3 separate regions of the Homo sapiens genome follow, and all the other regions are linked to region 1. Evidence: fine-mapped expression QTL. A gene starts in region 1. Each other region holds a variant in brackets. All regions are shown on one strand. Distances are between the middles of the regions.

Region 1 (8,186 bases):
TGTGCTTATATAAAAATCTACTCTTTATCAGTGTTTATCTGTTTGTTATAGTTTCCAATGTGTTGTCTGCTCTTTATTCATCTTAGTGTATAATCTGTTGTCCTTTAGATTGTAAACTCCAGTAGGTGAGACCGTGGGTGTCCTGCCTGGATTTATACAGGTAGAGCGCCAAGCCACAAGCACAGAGGCATCAGATGCTATGTGATAAGTGGATTAAATTATACTTATACTAACTCTATAACAGATTAAATTTGTTCTAACAAAACAGTGGGGATCAGCACTTACTAGGCCATTTGGCCTTAGGTATACTCTTCTCTGGCATTCACACAGCTAGCTAACAAGCAGCTGCAATGCCTTCACTTGTTCTTCATATCCCAGATAATATATATGCTTCCCTACTTCATTTAACTGCTCCAAAATAAAAGAACATCTGGTAGCCCAAGGTCTTTTCACCTCCCTGCTAAATACACATTTTAGGGGTTTGAAACTGCTCCATTAATTTACAAAAGACATGGAGAAAAAAACAACAACAACAAGAACAACCTTAAGATAATGCTTCAAACGTGAACCACACATGTAAGTCACTGGACATAGCGTGGCTTGAAAACATCCTGGCCTTAAATCCAAGGTAACCAAGAACATAATTCTATTTCTGACTTGAGTCACTGTACACATCATTTTTTTTGTCCTAATTTATTTTTCTGGTACGAAGCATTATTCAAATGTAAATGCCATAATCATATAGCATTCCTGACTACTTCTCCCAAACATGTAAGTTTGGTCAATCGTGATTCCTTTTGTTTTCCTAGCAACCTGTTTCCTCAAAGCTATGAAAAGGGCTTTCTGTCAAGATCCTAAAGGAAATACTCCAGAAGAAATCTTGACTATGATGATCCTGTTTTTAGATGAAATGCCAGGAAACATGAAGTCCTGAAAATGACCTGTGAGATAAACTAGTTATATTGGACAACAGATTTCCTCTCTAATCAAGTGTGTAAAAACTGGAGGAATGAGAACAGTCATAAGCCCAGCGAAGGGACTAGGAAGTGCACAAGAGTAAAAAGACTAACAACAAGGGCAAAACAATTCTGAGAAGAGAAGTTTAAAATAACCAGTGAAAGTCCATCATGGAAACAGAAGATATACAAACTCTAAAACAAACAAACAAAAAGTTGGATCTTAGATTCTCCCCCATATACACTACAAAACTGCCCCAAAAGTCTACCTGAATCCTCAGTGAATTTTCAATCTCCAGATAAACAAGTTACATCCTGTACTTAAATGCACTAAAGAATACAAATTCATGTTAGGAATACTCGATTTTTAATCTAAGGGTTTTAGCTTCACTTCTAAAACTCTATTTAACTACAAGGTAGTTCCCAAGGGCAGCTAATGCCCTGCAATAAGGCACCTTGTTCCCCTCAAAGTACATACCAACTCCTATTTGGCAAAATCTGGGTAAAATGAAACACAGGTTCACAATTTTTTAGGTAGAGAGAAAAATTTTCCTGGAAGCTTTTCCCAGGCCAGCTACACAGCATCTTAGAATTAAGCCAGGTGAAAAGAGCAAAAGGAAAGACTTGCTTGGGGTCTCCTTTGTCAGTCTGGTGAGCACAGGATGGTTTGTTCCCATCGTCCAGCATCCTTGCTCACATCTGCTACTTTACTTTCTTTTCCATGGTGACCTCTATCAGGGACACTATTGAAGGGGGCCCTCATCAAGTAGGATGTTCAACTGGGATCCCCAAATTCTCCAAAAACATCGATCTCAAATTCTTGTAGAAAATCCCAATGAGGTCAAAAAAAAGACCGTACTTGGCACGATTTTCTGTTCTTCATTATACACAAATGAGAAGTCAGAACACTACTGAAAATGTTCCCATGAAGTGGGAATCAATTTCCCTAATATGGCCCAAAACCCTAAATATAGCCATATTTTTTTTGTTCAAATACACTCAGTTAAACTTGTGGATAGCGGAAATGGTGGTAGGCAATTAGGCAAGGAGCACAGAAAACAATGACAAGTAACCGCCACTATCTCCTCCTGCATTCAAATGGCTTTAAATGTCCTTGGCAAGAGCTGTCAAAGTACAGACACCTGTAACATGCTCCTTCCGCTCCAGGCTTTGTACCCCTGATGGAGTCTGGGTTACAGGGAGGGAAGGGACGAAATTACACACCTTAGGTCCGAAGTAATTCTACCATTCTGAGAAGGTACATGGCATCACTAATACTCAGCCTAACAAAAGGCATAGAATTCCCACTCAAATTATAAGGCTTGTTAGCCTAAAGAAAACATGAGAATTTAACTTGGGGAGTTTAAGGTCCTCACAATATGCCTTCCATGAGCGCGCGTGCACACACACACACACGTTTAATTTTCACATGACCACAGTGAGAGACTGTTTTAAATGATGGAATTCAAGAAAAGCAAAATCTAGAACATAAAACTTAATCCAGAATTTATTTCAAAGTTTCACTTGAAACTTTTAAAGGTTTATTATACTGGGTCTAGATCTGTTTAACAGTGAACTGTTTTTGCAAGACATTTTGGCCAAAAAGCACCTAGCATAGTGTCAGAATTGGGAGTTGGTGCTCAATTTTAAAATGTGTTGAAAAATTGTTAAATAAACTTCTCAACATACCTGTGCTCAAAGGCAATATAGGACATTTTAAGGCGTCTTTTAAAAGTTAGCCCTTGAAATCAGAATAGCATAGGGATTTTAAAGACTGGAATCTGTGGTCAAACTGCTTGGGTCAAAACACAGGCTCTACCACTGACAGCTGGATTTTGGGCAAGCCGCCTAAGTTATCTGTGACTTTAAGTTTCCTCACCTGTAAAATGGGAATTATAATAGCACCCACCTCACCGCATTGTCAGAAAAGTAAACGACAGAAATCAACATAAAGCATTTTAGGTAGTAAGCTCTCCATAAATGCTATCAATATTCAAAGGTATGTGTTCGAGAGATCAAATCTATTAAATATACATATCAGCTTTGATCAATTGAAATCTCGGAAATTTCATAATTGCATCTTACTCCCCCTTTCCACACATCATGCGGCATCAACCTTCCACATGATGTGGAAATTACATACTTTCATTCATCCGTTTGAGAGCTTGTCATATATGGCAAGAAAGAAGAAAGATGCCTTTTTCGTGACTGTTGCTCCTTCAGAACTTCAAAACACTGTCACGTACACAATAGGTTGGAGCTGCCCTCAAAATGACAGCTCACAGCTTTGCTGGGCCCGCAGAGGTGCCCAGGCGGCTCTGCCCGGAAGGGGTTCACCCCAATAACCGGAGAATCTCCGGTCGCCACAGCCAAGCACAGCGCACGCCCGGGAACCCCAAGGAACACAAGAGAACTCTGAAATGGGGAAGGACCCTGAGTTGTGGAGAAAGAGCGGGAGGAAGGGTCACGGAGGGTCCGGAGCCACACTCGGATCAGGCGCGTCCACGCTGACAAGCCCGGGACCAGGTGCCGGCGATAGGCAGCGCCGTCCTGGACAGTCCCTTCCCTTTCCCCTACCCGTCCCCTCCCCGGCGAGCACCGAAGCCAACTCGGGTCCCGCGCCAGAATTGCCCCCCGGCGCCCCCTCACCTAAAGGCGGGTCCTTCCTTAGGAGCCCTGCCCTGGGCAGACGCCGCCGCGGAGCTGCCGCTGCTGCCCCTTTTGTTGAAGAGCTTCTGGAGCAGGGTCGGGGCCATGATGCCGCCGCCGCAGCTCCGGCCGTGGCGCTCGGGGGGCCGGCGGCTCAGCGCGCAGCCGGGGGCGGCGGCCGCGGTGGCGGGGCCATCGCGGCGGCGCGGCCGCCCAGCCTTGCGGGAGCGCGGGGCCGCTGCGACTGAGTAACTCTGCTCGGCGCCGGAGCCGCCGGCTGCCGGTCATATGACTGAGCCGGCCCGCCACCGCCTCGCGCGCTGACAGTTATCTCCTGCGGGAGGAGCCCGCAGCCCCACGGCGGCGGCGGCGGCGCGGGAGGAGCGCGGCGGCCCCGGCGGCGGCCATTGGCCCGGCGGCCGCCCGCCCCGGGCTCACGTAACCCCGGCGGGAGGCGGGAGGTGGGAGGTGCGGCCAGGAGCGGGCGGGCGGCCCAGTACTCCGGGCACGCGGGGGACGCGGACGGGGGCAGGCGCGGCACTTAAAGGGGCCCGAGGGGCGAGGGCGGCCGCCGGGGCGCAGCTCCGCGAGTGGCGTGGGGTTCCCACGGAGCCTGGGTTCTTTCGCACAGCGAGCATGCAGCTAGGCCGATCTTTGTTCTTTAGAGACAAAGCCCCTGAACTTGGGTCCTCGCTTTGTTCAGGTACAAGAGCCCGTTCACAGAAGGCGTATGCTAGGGGGGAAGGCTTGGTACGCGCGGTGGCCGCTTCGGTGGGCTGTGATTTGAATCACATAGCACCCAAGGTTTTGTCAGGTTTCCTCCATGTCCAAATTCGATTCCTCCAGGCTTTCACAAAATTTAAACTGTTTATCCAAATCATTTGTTCTGTTTGGCGTCTTGGGCCACCATACCATGGTTATATAAGAAGTTGCATTTGAAATATTAAGTCCCCCCTTTAAAACATACACACACACACACACACACACACACACACACACACACAGAACTCACTACATAGATTTAGAAACTTAAGATATTTTATAGCAAGGGATTGTTTTTCCTAATACATATTTAACAGTCAATCAAGGCATATCAGCAGCAGATATTTGGTTTGAGGAAGGGAGGAGTTCATGTGTTTGAGTCCGCTTTCCTGCCCTGTCCCACCCCAGTCCCCTTTGGAATTTAATCCTTGGTGGTGCAGGGCTCTAAACAGCCAGTGTAGGACACGTTACCAGACTCAAAGCAACTTCTTAATCTATGTTTTAGAGCGTTGGGCTTCACGAATTTTTCCGATGATGGGAAATAGAGATAAAGTTAGTAAGACCCCAACCATGCCTCTTCTAGCTTCTCCATGAGTAGTGAACAGTGACTCACCTGGGCTCTCTTACACTTGTTGAGAGGAGGACTCTTGGAGACTCAAAAAGGAAAATATATTTCCAAAAACATAAGTAATCAAAAGAACCTATTCTGGGCCTATTTTACTTTGCATTTTCTTTTTTTAATTGTGTTAGTTTCTGGACTTGGTTGGGAACTAGCTGTGAATAATGTGCTGAAATTTCACAAAGGTAAGAGAAAGGTGGTAGAAATGGAAACTTAGTCATTTGTTTCCTTCGGACTTTTACTGTTAAAATGGTGGATTAAGTGTTTATCCTGATGAGCAATCATCCTTTTGCACAATTGAGTGTACACAGAACCCTAATTTGCAACTTTGCTATTTCTGTTTGCTGAAGGCCTTTACCTCATAGGGCTGCCAGTGTTGGTCAGGATGCTATATAGAAGGTATTGGCTTTATACGTTGTGACTTTCAGATACAGTCCCAGGTCATACTGTGGCCAGCAACTCACCACCTTTCCTTACTCCATCCTTGGTCAGAAAATGTCCTTTATTCTCCAGACTAAAATCTGCATGTTCCTCATGAGCCTAGCAGCTTTTGTAACTGCATATAGAAGAGGAATTTGACATATTGTGCCTCATTCCTCACTTCCTAGGACTCTTTCAGTTCCAACCCAGTCCAAATAGACAAGATCATCCAAAAGAGGCAATTAAAAAATCATAACCTGCTCTAGCCATCATCTTCAATTTTGGTTTTGACTAGGCAACTATAAAGGAAGAGTGTGTATTTTAAACTATTAAAGCCAGGACTTCAGTTAAAGGAGACAAAAGGAACCAAAATGCTTCCCTTCTCCCCTCTTTCTCCCTGTGCTTCCTCTCAGCATCACATTCTTCCTCATCCTGGTTCTGGCCACACCTCCTCCTTTGGATTTTTAAAGTATACAAAAATCCTAGCCAAAAAAGTTCTGGGAGACAGCTCTAGCCAGCTCTCCCAGTCTTCTTGTTTTTTATTTTTATTTTATTTTATTGGCTACTCAAGGCCGCTACAAAAATCCAATCTTTTGCCCATCATCCATTGGTCATTGCCTGGTCCCTGAGGCTTGTCATAATCTCAGTCTCCAACACTGGTCACGTGGCCCATCGCCCAGTTCCATACATCTCCTTTATTCACCTCTTCCCACTCACCCTATCTTGGAAAATATACCAGCTGGCTGTTCTTGTACGCAGCTGTCAAGAGGAGCAGGGAATAAGACAATATCCTGAATGCTTGGAGATGACAGAACAACACTAAAATGGGAAAGGGGAAGTTGTAAAGGGCTGACTTACTTAGTCCGGTCCATTCTGAGTCCTGGTGACAGTTCTCAATTAGTGGATATTATGTAAGTTGTTTTAGTTCTGCTTCTGCAATTAGACTGTCATTGATACCGTTTGTAGCCTATGTAATACCTGTTACCCTTATTCCTAACAGGAGGCAAGAGAGAAAGGAGCTGGAGGAAAAGGAGTAATTCTGGAAAAAGTTTCCTCACTCTTAATAGAAAGAGAGAGAGAGAGAGATAGGTGGGTTTTTTTCTTCCTTTGGATGTTATATGTCTAGGTCTAATGCCATCTTGCTACAAGCCTAAAGATGAAACCAGGACTGGAGATGGCAAAGAGACATAGAAGCGAGCTGGGTCCTTGATGGCATTATTGAGCCACAATCCCTCTGCCCTAACCTGACACTCTCCATTAGGTGAGATAATATTTCTATTTTCTTATAGACCAGTCTATAAGAGGCTGAGGCAGGTTCGTGTTTTCTGTCCTCTTTATTGCTTGTTATGTGAGACACATAATGCCAATCTGTTTATCTCTCAATATGCCAGAGAAAATACTTGTCACCAATGGTCCTGTTCTGTTTTTTCATACTGTTAAGTGATTTTGCAAATTATTTACAGAGCTAAGACTAAAGGAATAGTGAAAAATAATTCTTTAAAAAATTTTTAATTTCAGTACAGCAAACCCGTTTTTTATTCTATATTTTCCTGCATTTGAAGGATTATTTACCCTAAATGGACAGTGTTCTTTGAACGTAACTGACTACTTATCAATTAGCATATATGAACCAGGAACACAATCATCTTATAAATATTGATTCCAGGCTTCAAATACATTTTTTTTTTTTTGAGACAGAGTCTCACTCTGTCACCCAGGCTGGAGTACAGTGGCGCAGTCTTGCCTCACTGTAACCTCCGCCTCCTGGGTGCAAGCAATTCTCATGCCTAACCATCCAGAGTAGCTGGGACTACAGATACCCACCACCACGCCCGGCTAATTTTTTGTATTTTTAGTAGAGACAGAGTTTCACCATGTTGGCCAGGCTGGTCTTGAACTCCTGACCTCAAGTGATCCACCTGCCTCAGCTTCCCAAAGTGCTGAGATTACAGGTGTGAGCCACCACACCCAGAATCAAATACATCTCTAACGATTCTAACTTATCATTACCTTTGTGCTGCTTGCACTTGAATAAACAAAAAGCAGTGCTTTTGAAAACTTTGATGGCTCATCATTTTGTTGAAGAGACAGTAGTTATTTTCTTTGTTTCTTAGTTGCAAAATATTTTCATTTTTAGATTTATAAACACCAAGTAGAATTAGCAATCCAATGAATTTTTTCATCTCTTCCTTATAGATTTCCTTCCCTTCACCTTTGTATATATACATCTGCCTTTATCATTTGTTATCTTATAAACTATATGAAGTATATTGGATGCACAACACCATGAAAGATGACAAGATATCACACTTTTTTAGGATGGCTCAGGTTCTTGTTGCAAAGTATTGAATAAGGAAGTAATTCCTATTAAATGTCAAACTGGATGAGAATACCCTATTTCCTTTTTATCCTTAGGTATATGTTGTTGAATTGTCAGTTCTTGAGTTTGAGAAAATGTATCTAGGATATCATTATCTAAAGACTCATAATCTGAGATTTCACTTACATGTTTCAGGCCAGCCACGATGGCTCACACCGATAAATCCCAGCACTTTGGGAGGCCTAGGTGAGAGGATTGCTTGAGCCCAGGAGTTTAAGACCAGTCTGGGCAACAGCATGAGACCCTCTCTCCACAAAAAGTAAAAAAAAAAATAGCTGGGCATGGTGGTATATACCCGTAGTCCTACCTACTTAAGAGGCTGAGGCAGGAGAATCACTTGAACCCAGGAGTTCGAGGAAGCAGTGAGCTATGATCACACCACTGTACTCCAGTCTGGGCA
Region 2 (8,186 bases), 320 kb before region 1:
CTTTGCTATTGTGAATAGTGCTGGAGTGAACATATGCATGCATGTGTCTTTATAATAGAATTCTTTATATTTCTTTAGGTATATACCCAATAATGGGATTGCTGGGTCAAATGCTATTTCTGGTTCTAGATCTTTGAGGAATCACCACAACATCTTCCACAATGATTGAACTAATTAACATTCCCGCCAACAGAGTAAAAGCATTCCTATTTCTCCACAGCCTTGCCTGCATCTGTTGTTTCTTGACTTTTTAATCATCACCATTCTGATTGGTGTAGCTAGTATCTCATTGTGGTTTTGATTTACATTTCTCTAATCATCAGTGATGTCGAGCCTTTTTAAAATATGTTTGCTGGCCGCATAAATGTCTTCTTTTGAGAAGTGTCTGTTCACCTGTTCTTTGCCCACTTTTTGATGTTTTTTTTTTTTCTTGTACATTTGTTTAAGTTCCTTGTAGATTCTGGATATTAGGCCTTTGTCAGATGGATAGATGGCAAAATCTGTTTTCTCCCATTCTGTAGGTTGTCTGCTCACTCTGATGATAGTCTCTTGCTGTGCAGAAGCTCTTTACTTTAATTAGATTCCATTTGTGAATTGTTGCTTTTGTTGCAGTTGCTTTTGGGGTTTTAGTCATGAAGTCTTTGCCCATGCCTATGTCCTGAATGGTATTGCGTAGGTTTTCTTCTAGGGTTTTTATGGTTTTAGGTTTTACACTTAAGTCTTTAATCCATCGTGAGTTAATTTTTGTATAAGGTATAAGGAAGGGGTGCAGCTTCAATTTTTTGCATATCGCTAGCCAGTTTCCCCAGCACCATTTATTAAATAGGGAATCCTCTCCTGGTTGCTTGTTTTTGTCAGGTTTGATGAAGATCAGATGGTTGTAGATGTGTGGTCTTATTTCTGAGATCTCTATCCTGTTCCATTGGTCTATGTGTCTGTTTTTGTACCAGTACCATGCTGTTTTGGTTACTGTAGCCTTGTAGTATAGTTTGAAGTCAGGTAGCATGATGCCTCCAGCTTTGTTCTTTTTGCTTAGGATTGTTTTGGCTGTATGGACTCTTTCTTGGTCCCATATGAATTTTAAAGTTTTTTCTAATTCTGTGAAGAATGTCAGTGTCTACTGATTTATCTTGATGGTCATTTTTAAAATACTTGCAAGACACATTTTATGTAGTCTAACACAACTTCCATCAAGAACTATGGAAACTTGTGAAGACAAAGCCACCTAAGAATTTCTGGGAGGAATGGTAGCAGGAGTCTTGGCACTGAGTCTCAGACCGATTGGCTTTTTCCTGACAATGTGCTACAAGAGATCTTGAAGGAGTACAGGCACTTTTGCCTGATTAGAGAATCTATACTTTCCGTTACTATCTCAGTAGCACAGTTAGCTGTGGGCCTCTATCCTGGTACCTGCCAATATTAGAGAGTGGTCCCCTTTCTGAGGAAGTCATTCCTTTGGCTTTTCTTGTAAACACAGTGAGAATGAAATTGGAGAAATAATAACTTTAGTAAAGAGTTTCAATTCTCCCCTTTTCCCCAACAAAGTGCCAAACAATGTCCAGACCATAGAGCTGTCATTGTCCAATTTCTGTCCTTTCCCTAAAGTGAGATTATTTTGAAGAACTCTGGTCTCATGCAGAGCTGGAGACAGACTAAACCATGGGGATAAAATCTGTGAGCAAAGCTAGGCAATCATTGGGGAAGATGAGGGATAGGAAGGAAAAATATGAATTCTGAGTCCATGGTAATACCTAATTACGTTTCTCATACTTCATTTGGGAGATGTTTGAAACACATATCAAAAATAGCAAGCAGGGGGTGTAGGAGATAAAGAGAGAGGTTGGTTAATGGTTATAAACATACAGTTAGGGACAGGCGCGGTGGCTCATGCCTGTAATCCCAACACTTTGGGAGGCTGAAGCAAGTGGATGGCTTGAATGCAGGAGTCTGAGACCGGCCTGGCCAACATGGTGAAACCCCATCTGTATCAAAAAATATAAAAATTAACCAAATTTTTGTATTTAATTAACATAACAATTAATTTATGTACTTAATTAAATTAATTATTTTATTAATTCAAATATGCATTTAATTAGCATAATTAAAGTAATTTTATTAACAACAATTTTTTAAAGGTCTGGTGGTGTGGATCTACAGTCCCAGCTACTCGGTAGGCTGGCATGGGAGGGTCACCTGAGCCCAGAAGGTGGAGGTTGCAGTGGGCTGAGATGGCATCACTGCACTCCACTGCTCTCCAGCCTGTGTGACAGAGAGAGACTCTGTTTCAAAACAAATAAATAACAAATGTTAGACATAGAGAGACCCTGTTTCAAAACAAATAAATAACATACAGTTAGAAGAAATAAGTTCTAGTGTTTGATGGCATGGTAAGTTGACTACAGTTAACAACAATTTATTATATATTTCAAAATATCTAGAAGATTTGAAATATTCCTGACACAAAGAAACAATGAATGTTTGAGGTGATGAATATCCTACTCTGATTTATTGTTATTCATTGAATGGATGTATCAAAATATCACATGTATCCCATATATATACAATAATTATGTATTAATTTTTTTAAAAATGCAAGCAGGCATGGTTTCTAAATGAAGAGCTTTTAGCAGAGAATTCCAGATGTTACAATTTGTTTATTTATTTTGTGACAGGGTCTCACTCTGTGGCCCAGGCTGGAATGCAGTGGTGTGATCATGGCTTACCACAGCCTCGACCGCCTGGGCTTAAGCAATCCTCCTGCCTCAGCCTCCCAAGTAGCTGGGACTGCAGGCATGCAGCACCATGTGTGGCTAATTTTTTATTTTTATTTTATTTTGGTAGACATGAGGTCTCACTATGTTGCCCAGGCTTGTGTCGAATTCCTGGGCTCCAGTGAGCCTCCTGCCTTGGCCTCCCAAAGTGCTGGGATTAAAGGCATGCGCCGCTGCACCCAGCCACAAATTTTTTATTATGTACAGTTTACCTTTGTACCCAGACCTGGGCATATTTCATGTAAGAAAACTTATTTTAGTAGTGAATCCCAATTTTTCTTGTGAAAATCAATAGTCATTGCCAGAAAATACCAGGAATTTTAAAAGCCATGACGTTTTTTCCAAGACATTCCCACAGTAAGCTCCTAGAAAGTAATTTACACAACTGGTAAGAATGGCTGACAGATGTTGAGTGCTCACTATATGCCAAGCATTCTTCCGTGTCCTCCATGTGATTGTCTTATTTGATCTTCCAATAACCCTATGAAATGGGCACTATTACTATACCTGTTTACAAATATGAGAACAGAGACTTAGCATGTTCCCAGAGTCAGCATCTAGACACATACTCTTTGGTACCATCTGATTTTGGGGGTTCTTGGGTCTTCCTTGACTCATTTCTTAAACTTAGAACATCAAGTGCCATAATTAACCATTTGTTGGTGATTTGGTGATTAAGGTGACTTAGTCCTCAGCCCTATTTTCTTCTCTGTTTTTTGTCCATGAAAAATCTGACACGTTCTGAGAAATGTGACTACACTAAACTTGAATTTTATCCTAAATGACACCCTAGACCTCCAGACTTCTATATTTATTTTCCCACATCTGCAAATAGACTTATACAGACACCTCAAAATCAAAAAGTCCAGCAAAAAGAAATGAAGTACTTAGGGATAAATATAACAAAATAAATGCATGATCTGTATTCAGAAGACTATAAAACCCTTATAAAGAAATTTAAAATGTCTAAGTAAATGGAAAAATATACCATGTTTATGGGTTAGAAGACTCAATATTATTAAGATGTCAGTTTTCTGCCATTTGATTTATCAAATCAATGCAATCTCAATCAAACTTCTAGCAAGTTTCTTTATAGATATTAACAAGCCAACAGTAAAATTCATATAGAAGGGCAAAACACTTTTCTCTCTTTTTCAACTTTTATTTTAGATTCAGGGGGTACATGTGCCAGTTTGTTACCTGCATGATGCTGAAGTTTGGGGTATGAATGATCCCATCACCAAGTGCTGAGCTTAGTGCCCAACAGTTAGTTTTTCAACCCTTCCCTGCTCCTTTCCTTCCCCCAGCAAAACACTTTTGATAAAAAAGAATGAAGTTGAAGGATCCACATCACCCCACTTCTAGGTTTACTATAAAGCTACACTCATCAAGACAGTGCGTTATTAGCAAAATAATAGACTCATAGACCAATGAAACAGAATAGAAAGGCCAGAAATAGACCCACAAAAATATGGTCAACTGATTTCTTAGAAAGGTGCAGTA[G/A]AGAAAGGACAATCTTTTGATAAGTGGTGCTGAAACAATTTTGGCATCCAAATGCAAAATTAACATGTTCAAATTTAAACTTAGCATCTGTCTTCCAAAATCTTCTCTCCAAATATTCCCATATCTCACACCACCATCTACCCAGCTGCTCAGGCAAAACAAGGGGTCATCTTTGATACACTTTCTCATTTTTGGCCCCATAGTCAATCAGTTATCAAGTTATGTTGAATCACAAGGCCAATCCTCCCCACCACCATTCCTACTGTCTTTGACCTAGTTCAGGCATTCTTTCTCCTAAACCTTATTTTCTGTCTTTAATCCCTCCAAAATGCCATTTAAGGAGAAGCATTGCTGGAAGTAGTAGAGGAAACCATTGCTTCCCTGGGCACCATTTGCAAAAATGATACCTTTTAAATATGTTATGTTATTTTATTATTTTATTTTATTTTATTTTTTGGACACAGGGTCTAGCTCTTTTGCCCAGGCTGGAGTGCAGTGATGTGATCACAGTTCACTGCAGTCTCAACCTCCTGGACTCAAGCAATCCTCCCACCTCAGCCTCCTGAGTAGCTGGGACTACAGGCATGTGCCACCACAGTTTTAAAATAACATGTTGGCATGATGGTTTTTATGATTATTTTGGAAAAATGATACATTTCGTCATGTTGAAAGAAGGACTGTAAATTATGTAGAGAATACAGGCAAAGGGTAAGACCTTTTTATCCTGCCAGGTGCCTCCAGTCACAGTGCAGACTCAACCCCTGCTTGGTGCTTGCCCTTGGCTGACTCCCTTCTTGTTAGAGTCTGTCTGGCCTTTGCACAGTCATCTTTCTAAAAACCAAATCTGATCATGGAATTCCAAAGCTTAAGGTCTTTCAGTGGCTTTCCAATGCTTACTCCATAAAGTACAATTCCCTTTGCATAATATTCAAGAGCCCTGTGTTCTGGCAGGTAGGACTATTTAGTTTTTTCTTCTAATACCTTCTACTCCAATTATGCCTAATAATTAATTGCGTCTAGGAGAATTTGCCAAACTCTCTAATTCCTTAATGCTTTGCATATGCACCTCCTGACTACAATTCTCTTTTCTCCTTGGTTCACCTGTGAAATTCCTACTCCCAATTCCACCTTTATTTATTTATTTATTTATTTTTTTTTTGAGACGGTCTTGCTATGCTACCCAGGTTGGCCTCAAACTTCTGAGCTCAAAAGACCCTCCTGCCTCTGTCTCTCAAGTAGCTGCAATTACAGGTACAAGCCCTGATGCTGAACTTCCCACTCCTCTTTTATTAAAGACTCTCCTAAGCAAAGGTCTGTGGGCAGGTGGCATTACATACTAAATGGAGCAAGTGTCTGAGACACCTGAGTTCTAACCTAGATTCTATGTTGCCACACACCAGCTGTTTTTCCAGAGGCAAAATGCATACCTACCTCCTGTGAGCCTCAAGGCCTCTTTCGGGTGGAGGCAATATTAGCTAGATGACATATGAGAAATATGTGCGAAGGGAGTTTGTGGCAATGGCAAAAATGTTCTAGCCAGGTAGACTTGCTAGCATTTTTTACCCAAGATTTGTATTGCCATATCCTGGGCCTGTTCCCTACCTGGTAATTTGTATTGGCTTATGCCAACTGTCAACCCTTACCTACCCCTCTATAACTGTTGTATTTAGGACTTGCCCGGTGTATGACCACTATTATTATTGTTGTTGTTGCCATTATTACTTATTATTGTATCATTATAACCTGATTTATCACCTCCTTCCTTTCTCATCAGATAAATTAAGGCTTCTTAAACCATGATCCCATAGCAGCTTATACATACCATTATTATAATGCTTTTTACATCATACTGTAATTATGTGTCAAAAATCTGCCTCACCAATTGACTGTGAACTTGAGGACGGGGCCCTTGTCTTTTTATTTTTGCATATTCAGAGCCCAACACTAGCCCTGGCATAGAACAGTCACTAAGTTGTACTAATTGGATGAAAAAAAGAAGAAAACACCTATTTTTGATTAAGGCAGTGTAAGAAATATTGCTTTATTGATTCTTAGGTTCTGAGTTGGTAGAAAGCTAAAGTTGTAGAAGAAAAAATTCATCAAAAGAAACTAGATAGTTTGTTTTTAAAGGCTGGACTTCTTTAGAAAGTAATTGGCTTGGCGTTTTGTCCAGTGACTTCTGAGGTTGATTGAATTTATGTCTGTGTGCTTTTGTAAATCCGTTTATCTAAAATGAGTGACTTGGCCAGGCGCAGTGGCTCACGCCTCTAATCCTAACACTTTGGGAAGCCAAGGCAGGAGGATTGCTTGAGCCCAGGAGTTTGAGACCAGCCTGGGCAATATAATGAGACCACCCCCAACTCTACAAAAAAAAAAAAATTAGCCAGGCATAGTGGTGCATGTCTGTAGTCCCAGATACTTGGGGGACTTAGGTGGGAGGATTGCCTGAGTCTGGGAGGTTGAGGCTATGGTGAGCAGCATGCAGTGGTCACATCACTGCACTCCAGTCTGGGCAACAGAGGGGAGACCCTGCCTCAAAAAAATAAATAAATAAGTTTACACAAAATACTTATCAACTATGCTTCTTTTGATACTTGGCATTCTAATTTTAGTGATTATGTGTTTTTCCCCCCTACAGAAAATTTGAAAAAAATCATACATATTTTACCACATTTCGGTCCATCTCTCTGTCTCTGTCTGTGCCCATCTCTGTCTCTCTTTGTCTTTCTGTCTGTTGGTCTGTCTCTCTCTCTGTCTCTGCCTCTCTCTCTCTGTGTGTGTGTGTGTGTGTGTGTGTGTGTATACACATAGGGTCTTTTTTACTAAAGAATTTGCAAGTTCCAAACATCACGACACTAAACTTCAAAATATTTCAGCACGTACTTCCTACTGATGAAAACATTTTTTATCTAATCACATTAACAGTACAATTCGTAAGAAATTCAATGAAATAATTAAATATCATTAAAAGAAAAATCAGAAGTTGTTGGACTCTACCATACAAATTAGCATTACTTGACTGGACACAGTGGCTCACACCTGTAATCCCAGCACTTTGGGAGGCCAAGGTGAGTGAATCACCTGAGGTCAGGAGTTTGAGACCAGCTGGGCAACATAGTGAAATCCCATCTCTACTAAAAATACAAAAATTAGCCAGACGTGGTGGTGCATGCCTGTAATCCCAGCTACTCGGGAGGCTGAGGCAGGAAAATCACTTGATTGGTTGCAGATGGGAGGCAGAGGTTGCGGTGAACTGAGGTCACACCACTGCACGACAGAGCGAGACTCTGTCTCAAAAAAAAAAAAAAAAATAGCATTGTTTTATTGAGAATTGAATATGGGGGGGGTGGTGCACCATAATTTTGTCAGCATTAAGATTTCTAAGAGTCTGTATCCAGGCCTGGTCAGCCATGAGGGTACCATGGAAAGACAATCCAGCATGATTTGGGGGCACCTGCCCCAACCAGGAACAAGGTGTGCAACCAGGAACAATGGCTGTGTGCTGTGACTGTGGTAAGTTACCTTTTCCTATTCAAGGACAACTTTGCAAGAGTGCATCAGCCAAAAAAGTGTCTAAATTTAAACATATGCTTTTAAAAAAAACTAAATATGATTCCTTATATAATAGGGTGGGTGGTGGATTGTCTGCTAGATTACTCAGGGTGATTGCAAACCTGTTTAACACTCAAGTATCAAGCCCTATTCTGTTTTCCATGATTGCAGGAAGTTTTTCATTTTATTTTTTTTTTTAACACAAATACATGTGATAGCTTCGCCCTACATATAACCAAATTAAACGATTGCTCTATGCTCTACAGAGGTAGTCTGTAACTTTTGTAACTGTACCTGTCCTCTAAATACACTTCCTTATCTCATACAAAAGGATAACGGATAACTCATCCGCATTCATAT
Region 3 (8,186 bases), 140 kb before region 1:
AGCTAGGACTACAGGCACAGACCCTGTGGAATAAATGGTCTACAGGCTAGACCCTTTACTCCTAAATATTTCAGGGTGTATTTCCTAAGAACAAGGATGCTGTCTCACATAAACACAGTACAATTTATAAGATTCAGGAAATTTAACATTGATAGAGTATTATTATCTAATCTAAAGTTCATAGTCGAATTTTACTAAATAGCAGATGGTGGTGTTTCACACCTATAAACCCAGCACTTTGGGAGGCTGAGGTGGGAGAATCACTTGAGCCCAAGTTTGAGAGCAGCCTGGGCAACATAGTGAGACCCCATCTTTACAAAAAATATAAAAAATTAGGCAGGGGTGGTGGTGCATGCCTGTAATCCCAGCTACTCAGGAGGCTGAGGTGGGAGGCTTGCTCGATCACAGGTCTGCAAGTCTGCAGTGAGCTATGATTGCATCACTGCACTCCAGCCTGCGTGACAGAGAGCCTGACTGTCTTAAAAAATAACAACAACAACAACAACAGCAACAACAAAAAGTATTAACTGACGACCTTTGTAATATTCTGATCCAGGATTCAGTCTAGGACCATGTATTACATTGAGTTATCACGTCTCTTTAGTCCTCTTCAATGTGGAGGAGTTCCTCACTCTGGTCTTTTATAACATGGACACTTTTGAGGAATCCAGGCCAGTTCTGAATCTTTCAGTATGGGCTTGTCTGATGTTTCCTCACGAGTGGGTTCAGGTTACGTGTTTTTGTCAGGAATCCCAGATAAGTGACGTTGCCTCATGCTCAGTGCATCACATCAAGAGGCACCTGAGGTCGGTTTAACCCATTATTCCTGAGAGTAGTTGAGCACTTGGTCATACCCCTTCCATTCCAGAAATAAACAAAATACTGAATCATTCAAAATAATTTATCTTTTTATCAATGAGGCTTTCTTCTAAATTTCCAGAGTTACTTTAGATACTTGTCCCACAAATCCATTTTTTGGACTGTCCTGCAGAATTTGTGTGGATGCTTCAATAAATACTCAACACCCCTCTCTTTTACATGAATCCTCTTTAGGGAAAATAAATTGGAACAAATGTTCTTACATATTTGAAAGCAAATAATGAATACCACATGTGAAAAGCCTCCAACGCAGTGCCTCACACATAGCCCCCAGTGAGTGGCTATCATTACTATTCTTACTTGAGATGCCAACACATTTTCCATTCTTACACGACAAGAATCAGAACCAGGCACTGAAAGTCTCTTAAGTAGAAATTTGTCTGTGTTACTGGGTGACTTGGGGGAAATTTTAAAAGCTTAAACCTATAGACAGTATCATAAACTTTCCCATCAAAATAGATGGTTGAAAATGGGAATATTTTATATCCATGCTTTGAGTTTGGTTTTCCATGTATAAACTTAAGGTTAGAGAGCTTAATTACAATGTTTCTAAAAAGTACAATTTATGAGATTTAACAGTATGTATCATTCTTATATACATTTACCCAAAAATGCTCTTAAAAATACTTTTGGAAATCCATTGAGCAAGTCTCTAAACCACTTCTTCTATAATGCCCTAATCTCTCTTTTTAAATCACAAAATGTCTCTTAAGTTCTATCTTCTATTCCATTCATTATTTTCCCCTTCTGGATTTCTGGTTGTTTTTTTCCTTCATACAATAATACATTCATTATTTATTATTATACATTTCCTTCATACAATAATACATTCATTATTTTCCCCTTCTGGATTTCTGGTAGTTTTTTTCCTTCATACAATGCATATATCATATGCATTGTATAATTTATGTGCATATGATAGACACTTTTAACATAATTTATTTCTATTTCATTTCTTTGCTGGCAAATGTTCTCATTGTCCCCCTTCATTCCAATACACAGACTTCAGTCTCAGTGACTGATACATTCTTTTCCTCATCCACTCGAGTTTGAGAGCAGTATTCTCAAATTTTAAAGGTCATGCAAATCACTTGGGGATCCTGTTAAGATGCAGATTATGATTCAGTAGGTCTGAAATGGGGTTTGAGATTTTGCATTTCTGTCAAGCTCCCAGGAAATGCAGTTAGTTGTTGCTGGTCTGAGGACCTTGAGTAGCAAGGTGCTGGAGGATTTGACAATGAATTGAATTTTGTGCTAGGAACGGGGGACTTGATGAGGCAAAGGGAAGTCTATTCTAGGAAGAACAGACAGGGCAAAGACAATAACCTAGCACCTTTGGGGAAGTACATGTGGTTCAATGTGGCTGGAATATAGAACACAGAATTATCTGGTGATGAGGCTGGAGAAGATGAATCAGCTGGGTCACTGGAGTGCACAGGGCTGGGCTTTTATTTATTTTATTTATTTATTTATTTATTTATTTATTTATTTATTTGAGACGGAGTCTCGCTCTGTTGCCCAGGCTGTAGCGTAGTGGCACAATCTTGGCTCACTGCAGCCTCCGCCTCCTGGGTTCAAGTGATTCTCCTGCCTCAGCCTCCTGAGTAGCTGGGATTACAGGCACTGGAATGAGCCACCGCGCTGGGCCTTTCCACCACTTTTAACGAAATGTTACCTCCTTCCTTCTCAGAGGGTTGTTTTCCAATTCTTTGCAACACATATTCAGAGACTACGTGACATCTATGTCAGCCTTTATGGGATAACTCTTAAGTTGGTACTGTTTATGATGTTAAAGATATTTGCTTGAAAGCCTACTTCCTGTAACTTGGAATGACAATTTTCTGATCCTACTCAACTCCATTTTGGGTTATCATACCATATCATTGGACTGATCTCCTAAGTATCTGTATCAGTCAGGGTTCTCCAGAGAAACAGAACCAATGATGTGTGTGTTGTGCATGTAGGAGAGCAAGAGCCAGGGAGGGGTGTTTATTTTTAGGAGTTGGCTCCTGTGATTGTGGAAGTTGGTAAATCCAAACGCAGCAGGGTGAGCCAACAGGATGGAGACCCTGGGAGAAACTGATGTTGCAGCTCCAGCCTGAAGGCAGTTTTCAGGCAGAATTCTCTCTCCCTGGGGGATCTTCAGTCTTTCTCTTAAGACTTTCAACAGGTTGAATGAGGCCCACCCACATTATGGAGGATAAATAGCTTTATTCAGGGTCCACTGACTTAAATATTAATCTCACCTAAGAAATACCTGCACAGCACTGGGCTGGGAGTGGTGGCTCATGCCTGTAATCCCCGCACTTTGGGAGGCTGAGGCGGGCAGATCATCTGAGGTCGGGAGTTCAAGACCAGCCTGACCAACATGGGGAAACCCCGTCTCTACTAAAAATACAGAATTAGCTGGCGTGGTGGTGCATGCCTGTAATCCCAACTACTCAGGAAGGCTGAGGCAGGAGAATCGCCTGAACCCGGGAGGCAGAGGTTGCAGTGAGCCAAGAACGTGCCATTGCACTCCAGCCTGGGCAACAAGAGCAAAACTCCATCTCAAAAAAAAAGGAAAAAAAAAATACCTGCACAGCATCATCCAGATTAGTGTTTGACTAAATATCTGATTACTATCGCCTAGCCAAGATGACACATAACATTAACCATCACAGGCCAGACCTGGTGGCTCATGCCTGTAATCCCAACGGTTTGGGAAGCTGAGGCAGGAGGGTCATGTAAGGCCCAGAGTTCAAGACCAGCCTGGGCAACAGAGTGAGACCCTGTCTCTACAAATTTTTTTTTGTTTTTTTTTGAGATGGAGTCTCACTGTTGCTCAGGCTGGAGTGCAGTGGCACAATCTCAGCTCACTGCAACCTCTGCCTCCCAGGTTCAAACAATTTTCCTGCCTCAGCCTCCTGAGTAGCTGGGACTACAGGCGCGTGCCACCACGGCCGGCTAATGTTTTGTATTTTTAGTAGAGGCAGGGTTTCACCGTGTTAGCCAGGATGGTCTCGATCTCCTGACCTCGTGATCTGCCCGCCTCAGCCTCCCAAAGTGTTGGGATTACAGGCGTGAGCCATTGCGTCCAGCCCCAAATTTTTTTT[A/T]AAAAAATTAGCTGGGTGTGTTGGTGCATGCCTGTAGTCCCTGGTACTTGAGAGGCTGAGGCAGGAGGATACTTGAGGCCAGAAGTTTGAGGTTACTGCGAGCTATGATCATGCCACTGTACTCCATCCTGGTGACAAAGTGAGACCCTGTCTCTTAAAAAAAAAAAAAAAAACCATCACAGTACCCCTCATCCATTGTGAGGATTAAATGAGGTAACATACAGAAAGCGTCTGACAGAACGGTCCAGGCACTAGGGAACCAAAAAGCACTCTTGTGTGCACGTGCGTTTAACTCCTTTTATCAATGGCATGATTTTAAAGCTGTTTCACCCGAGTACACAGCAGGGAAGCCATCCTTGGAGAGCTGAACATGCACGAAAAGGAAAAAAAAAAAGCTTCAGGGAAAAACACTTGAAATTTTCATTTATCAGAAAGGATTTTGAAATATCTACTGTAACTTTCCCCCCAGTCTTTAAGATAACATAACTCAGTATGGCATTATGTTGGTACCAACAGTTGCTCTCAGTGGCATATTTTTTCCTGAGAACAAATATATCTGTGGACATCATCCCTTTTCAGAGCAAATATTTTGTAATGCCCCCTTTATTAACCTAAAATAAAATTTACAAATATACTCAATTTATATCATACCAATATAATGCCCTATTATACTGTAATTTAAAAGAAATTTAAAAGTAATTTATAATACTACTTTAATACATAAATATTGGGGCAGTAGATTAGAAAATATAATGAAGTTGGCCAGGCACAGTGGCTCACGCCTGTAATCCCAGCACTTTGGGAGGCTGAGGTGGGCAGATCTCCTGAGGTCAGGAGTTCAAGACTAGCCTGGCTAACATGGTGAAACCTCGTTTCTACTAAAAATACAAAAAATTGGCCAGTTGTGGTGGCGCATGCCTGTAACCCCAGCTACTTGGGAGGCTGAGGCAGGAGAATCACTTGAACCCAGGAGGCGGAGGTTGCAGTGAGCCGAGATTGCACCATTGCACTCCAGCTTGGGCAATAAGAGCAAAACCCCATCTCAAAAAATATAATGAAGTAGGCATCTATATACAGAGTCTTCATGAATGCAGGGGCTACAAATGAAGACTGACAGAGATGTCCTGTATTGGTGACTCAAATTCCATGGGTACCATAGCTACCAAACTATGTTACCATTGGAAACGCAGTTTTCCAAAAGTATATCAATTCTTGGTAAAGACCAAGTGACCACTTCTTGCTAAAATTCTAAATCTTACAAAGTAAAAATCTTCCCTCAATTTATACAACAATTGCATTCCTGGAGAATGCATTATATACAAAAATCATGTAAAAATACATTGTGTTTTTTATGTATAGCAGAATTATCTGCTTAATTATAAACAGGCTTTTTTAGCCATATAAATGTCCAGCAGGACATTTAAGGGTTACGCAGGAGGTGGGTGGGACAAGTCCTCATCCCATGGGGCTGTCTCACATGGTGCAGGACCTCTCGCCTATCATCTGAGCCCCCAGCCTCTCTGTGCCAGTAACCCTAACCTGGCATTATGCTAACCAAAAATGTCCCTGCATTTCCAAAACACCCCGGTTAAAAACCACTGAGATAAATAATCAGCTTGTTTTCAGCACGAATTATTAGAAATGAGACCTCTACATTTTATTAAATATAACAAATCGCATGCAGCACCAGGAAAATGTTCAAGATAAATTCAAAAGTTTTATTGCACCAAATGCCACAGAAAAATGGATCAAAATAATACATAAACAAGTTAAAAAAAATTCCCACACAATGACATTGGTATCTATTCAGACTGATCAAAAACGAAGTCCTATCAATTTCTCTTATGGAGCTTCAAATGACAAATTCCAGAATTTTCTCGTTTTTGAAATACCACTTAAGTTTAAGCATATTGCAATCTCACTTTCAAGATATATCGTTCATCATATTTTGACATTTAAAAATTAACATTCAGAGGGGACTTCTTGATTTAGGCAAAAATTATATTAAAATACCCTCTCCCCCAAGCACAATAAAAAACAAATGGTTCACATTTACCAAGAGAAGCTGAAGACATTTTCAATTTAACGTGGAAGTATGCATGAACAAAATATTCTCTAAAGTACATATTAGCGGAAAAATCCAGACTTTAAAAGAATTTTGGGATACTTTATATTCTTTATTATTTTTATGTACAACCAACTCTAGTGAAGAACCTAAAAAGCTACAGACTAAATTTTTATAAAATCTCAGGACCTAATTATAAGAGCCCAAACAACGGTTTAGTATCATTTAGCAAGCGGGGATTTTTCTCCCTCCAAAAACGTTAATTTTGAAAAATATGGTTAAGTTTAAAAAGTTGCAATGTGTAAACGGCAGTTCCATGGGATGTGAAAAGATTATAGTTACTTTCATTAAAAAACAGCACACTTCGAAAAATGGATTGAAGCCTGTACAAAAAGCTATTTAACACTGATTGATAAAAAATAAAATACTTTGGAATTATGCACAAGTATGGAAGCTACATTTTAAATTTTCATTGTCATGTCTAAAACGTACACAATTACCTTTACATTCATTTCACTTACCAATTTATTAAAAATAAAACTGCAACATGCTAGAAAGAGGTCCATCACAGGGACATTTACAGACTTCTGCTCTGTCATGCCTCACTAGCTTGCTTGGAAAAGCAAGATGCTACAAAAGTTACACTCAACAGGTAAGACTTAAAAGTTGAAGAAACCCTAAAGGTGGAATCCTGTCAACTGAGGTAGATTTCTTTTCTTTTTTAAAAAAAATTGTTTTATGTTTTTTCTTGAGGTGGGCATGGGAGCAAGTGGGGTCCCTTTCTTGCCTCTGCGGCTAAGCCAGAATGAAGCCACTGGGTGGTGTACGGCGTGTGAGCGGTGGATCTCAACACAATTCTGTGAGGTTTTTTTTTTCTTTTTTGCTTTTAGGAAGAGGCTGAATTTAAGACAAAGAAAACTTGAATGTTAAATATTTAAAGGATTATAAAAGAGCAGCAACATTCTTGGTCTATTTTTGTAGGCAATAGATATGAGGATTAGGTTCTGACTGGAATCCTGAGTGTCACGGAGACAGCCCCCACATGTGACCCACCTGTAGTTTTCCAACAGGCATTTTTCCAAGAGTGAGTTTTGGAACATTAAATTAAGAGCAAATTAAATTTTCTCAGGCTTTGAGGGGCCTGGGCTGAATTTTTTTAATGTATAGAGTTTAGAATCAACGATTTAAAGCTCAGTGTCCCCTATATGGGTCTAATTATGAACATGCCACTATGTCCACATTAGAATTGAACTGATTTTGTAACAAGTTATTTTCTATGAAACCCTGGAAGGTGGTGAATGAGGGAAAGTGCCCAAAACATGTAAACAAGAAAAAAGGAACTAGAGACGAGGGGAATGCTTTAAACTGTAAAAGCTGTAACATCAGCTCTGACAGTTTATTTACACGTAATGAGAAACGGATGTGGGGTGAGCTGAGCCACAGGTGAGGTTCCTTCTCTCTCTGTAACACAACAGCAAACAATGATGTCATGGAACTACAGAACTTAAAACACCAAAGTCAAATGCTAGGCAAAAGGAAATAGGAAAACATTAAAAAGAATGAACATTTCAATTTTCAATGAATGACATAAAATGATAAAGATCTTACAAAACTTAATGCACTCATCTACATTTTGCATCATTAAAAAAGGGAAAGGTAGCAGTTCTGATTTTTATCAAATGAAAAAACTGAAGTCATTCTAGTCCCTAATAGGGAAATTACTTCATAATCTTAGGTTCAAAGATACATGAAAAGAACTGGAATTAATTCATAAAACAGTGGAAGGGAATCAGAGCCTGGTTAACTGCTTGAGATCTGCAAAGTGCTAAAGATGTTTTGCTTTGCTAGCTTAGCTCCTGTCCTTTAATGACCAATATTTAAAAGTCTTTTACTTTACCCTGGATGTCAGTACATAGTCTGTTTCACGGTCAGTAAACTGAAGTTTCTTTTATATTAACAGAAAATTAGGTTGTTTTTTTTTTTTTTTTGCATGAACTTTAGGAAATCATTTTGGTCGGTTTTATACAATGTGTAAGTTAATGTCTGGAAAGATGTTTTGAAAAGGATGCAGGAATTAGAAGGCACAGAAATGATAATATAAAAATTTAGATCATATATGAATTTTTTCTAAATGTTCAAGCTAATTG

Which allele goes with the higher level. Alleles are on the strand shown, and positions count from the first base shown. SD is a standard deviation of normalised expression in the study named. Not every link is listed here.
For the expression in tibial nerve of the gene that starts at base 3,899 in region 1, A is the high allele of the variant in region 2 and G is the other (large effect, 0.90 SD a copy in GTEx).

What was found. PIP is the estimated chance that this variant, and not a neighbour inherited with it, causes the effect.
Region 2: its variant is the best candidate, but not a certain one, in a credible set for the expression of FNIP2 in tibial nerve (GTEx, PIP 0.53).
Region 3: its variant is the best candidate, but not a certain one, in a credible set for the expression of FNIP2 in lung (TOPMed, PIP 0.57).

Annotation. Positions count from the first base shown.
Region 1 is chr4:158,764,739-158,772,924 of GRCh38, reverse strand. It overlaps FNIP2 (folliculin interacting protein 2), which reads right to left and starts at 3,899. Exons shown (of 17, transcript NM_020840.3): 1 at 3,606-3,899. The coding sequence starts at 3,712. RefSeq lists an enhancer at 3,254-3,991 and a silencer at 3,949-4,158.
Region 2 is chr4:159,084,330-159,092,515 of GRCh38, reverse strand. No RefSeq gene overlaps it. Among named protein-coding and RNA genes, the nearest start is that of RAPGEF2, 15 kb to the left of the region's middle. The variant G/A (reference allele first, on the strand shown) is at 4,275.
Region 3 is chr4:158,905,536-158,913,721 of GRCh38, reverse strand. FNIP2 (folliculin interacting protein 2) reads right to left here. Exons shown (of 17, transcript NM_020840.3): 17 at 5,672-8,186. All of the region lies in intron 4 of SPMIP2 (sperm microtubule inner protein 2), which reads left to right. It also overlaps the pseudogene LOC124900178. Among named protein-coding and RNA genes, the nearest start is that of SPMIP2, 130 kb to the left of the region's middle. The variant A/T (reference allele first, on the strand shown) is at 3,975.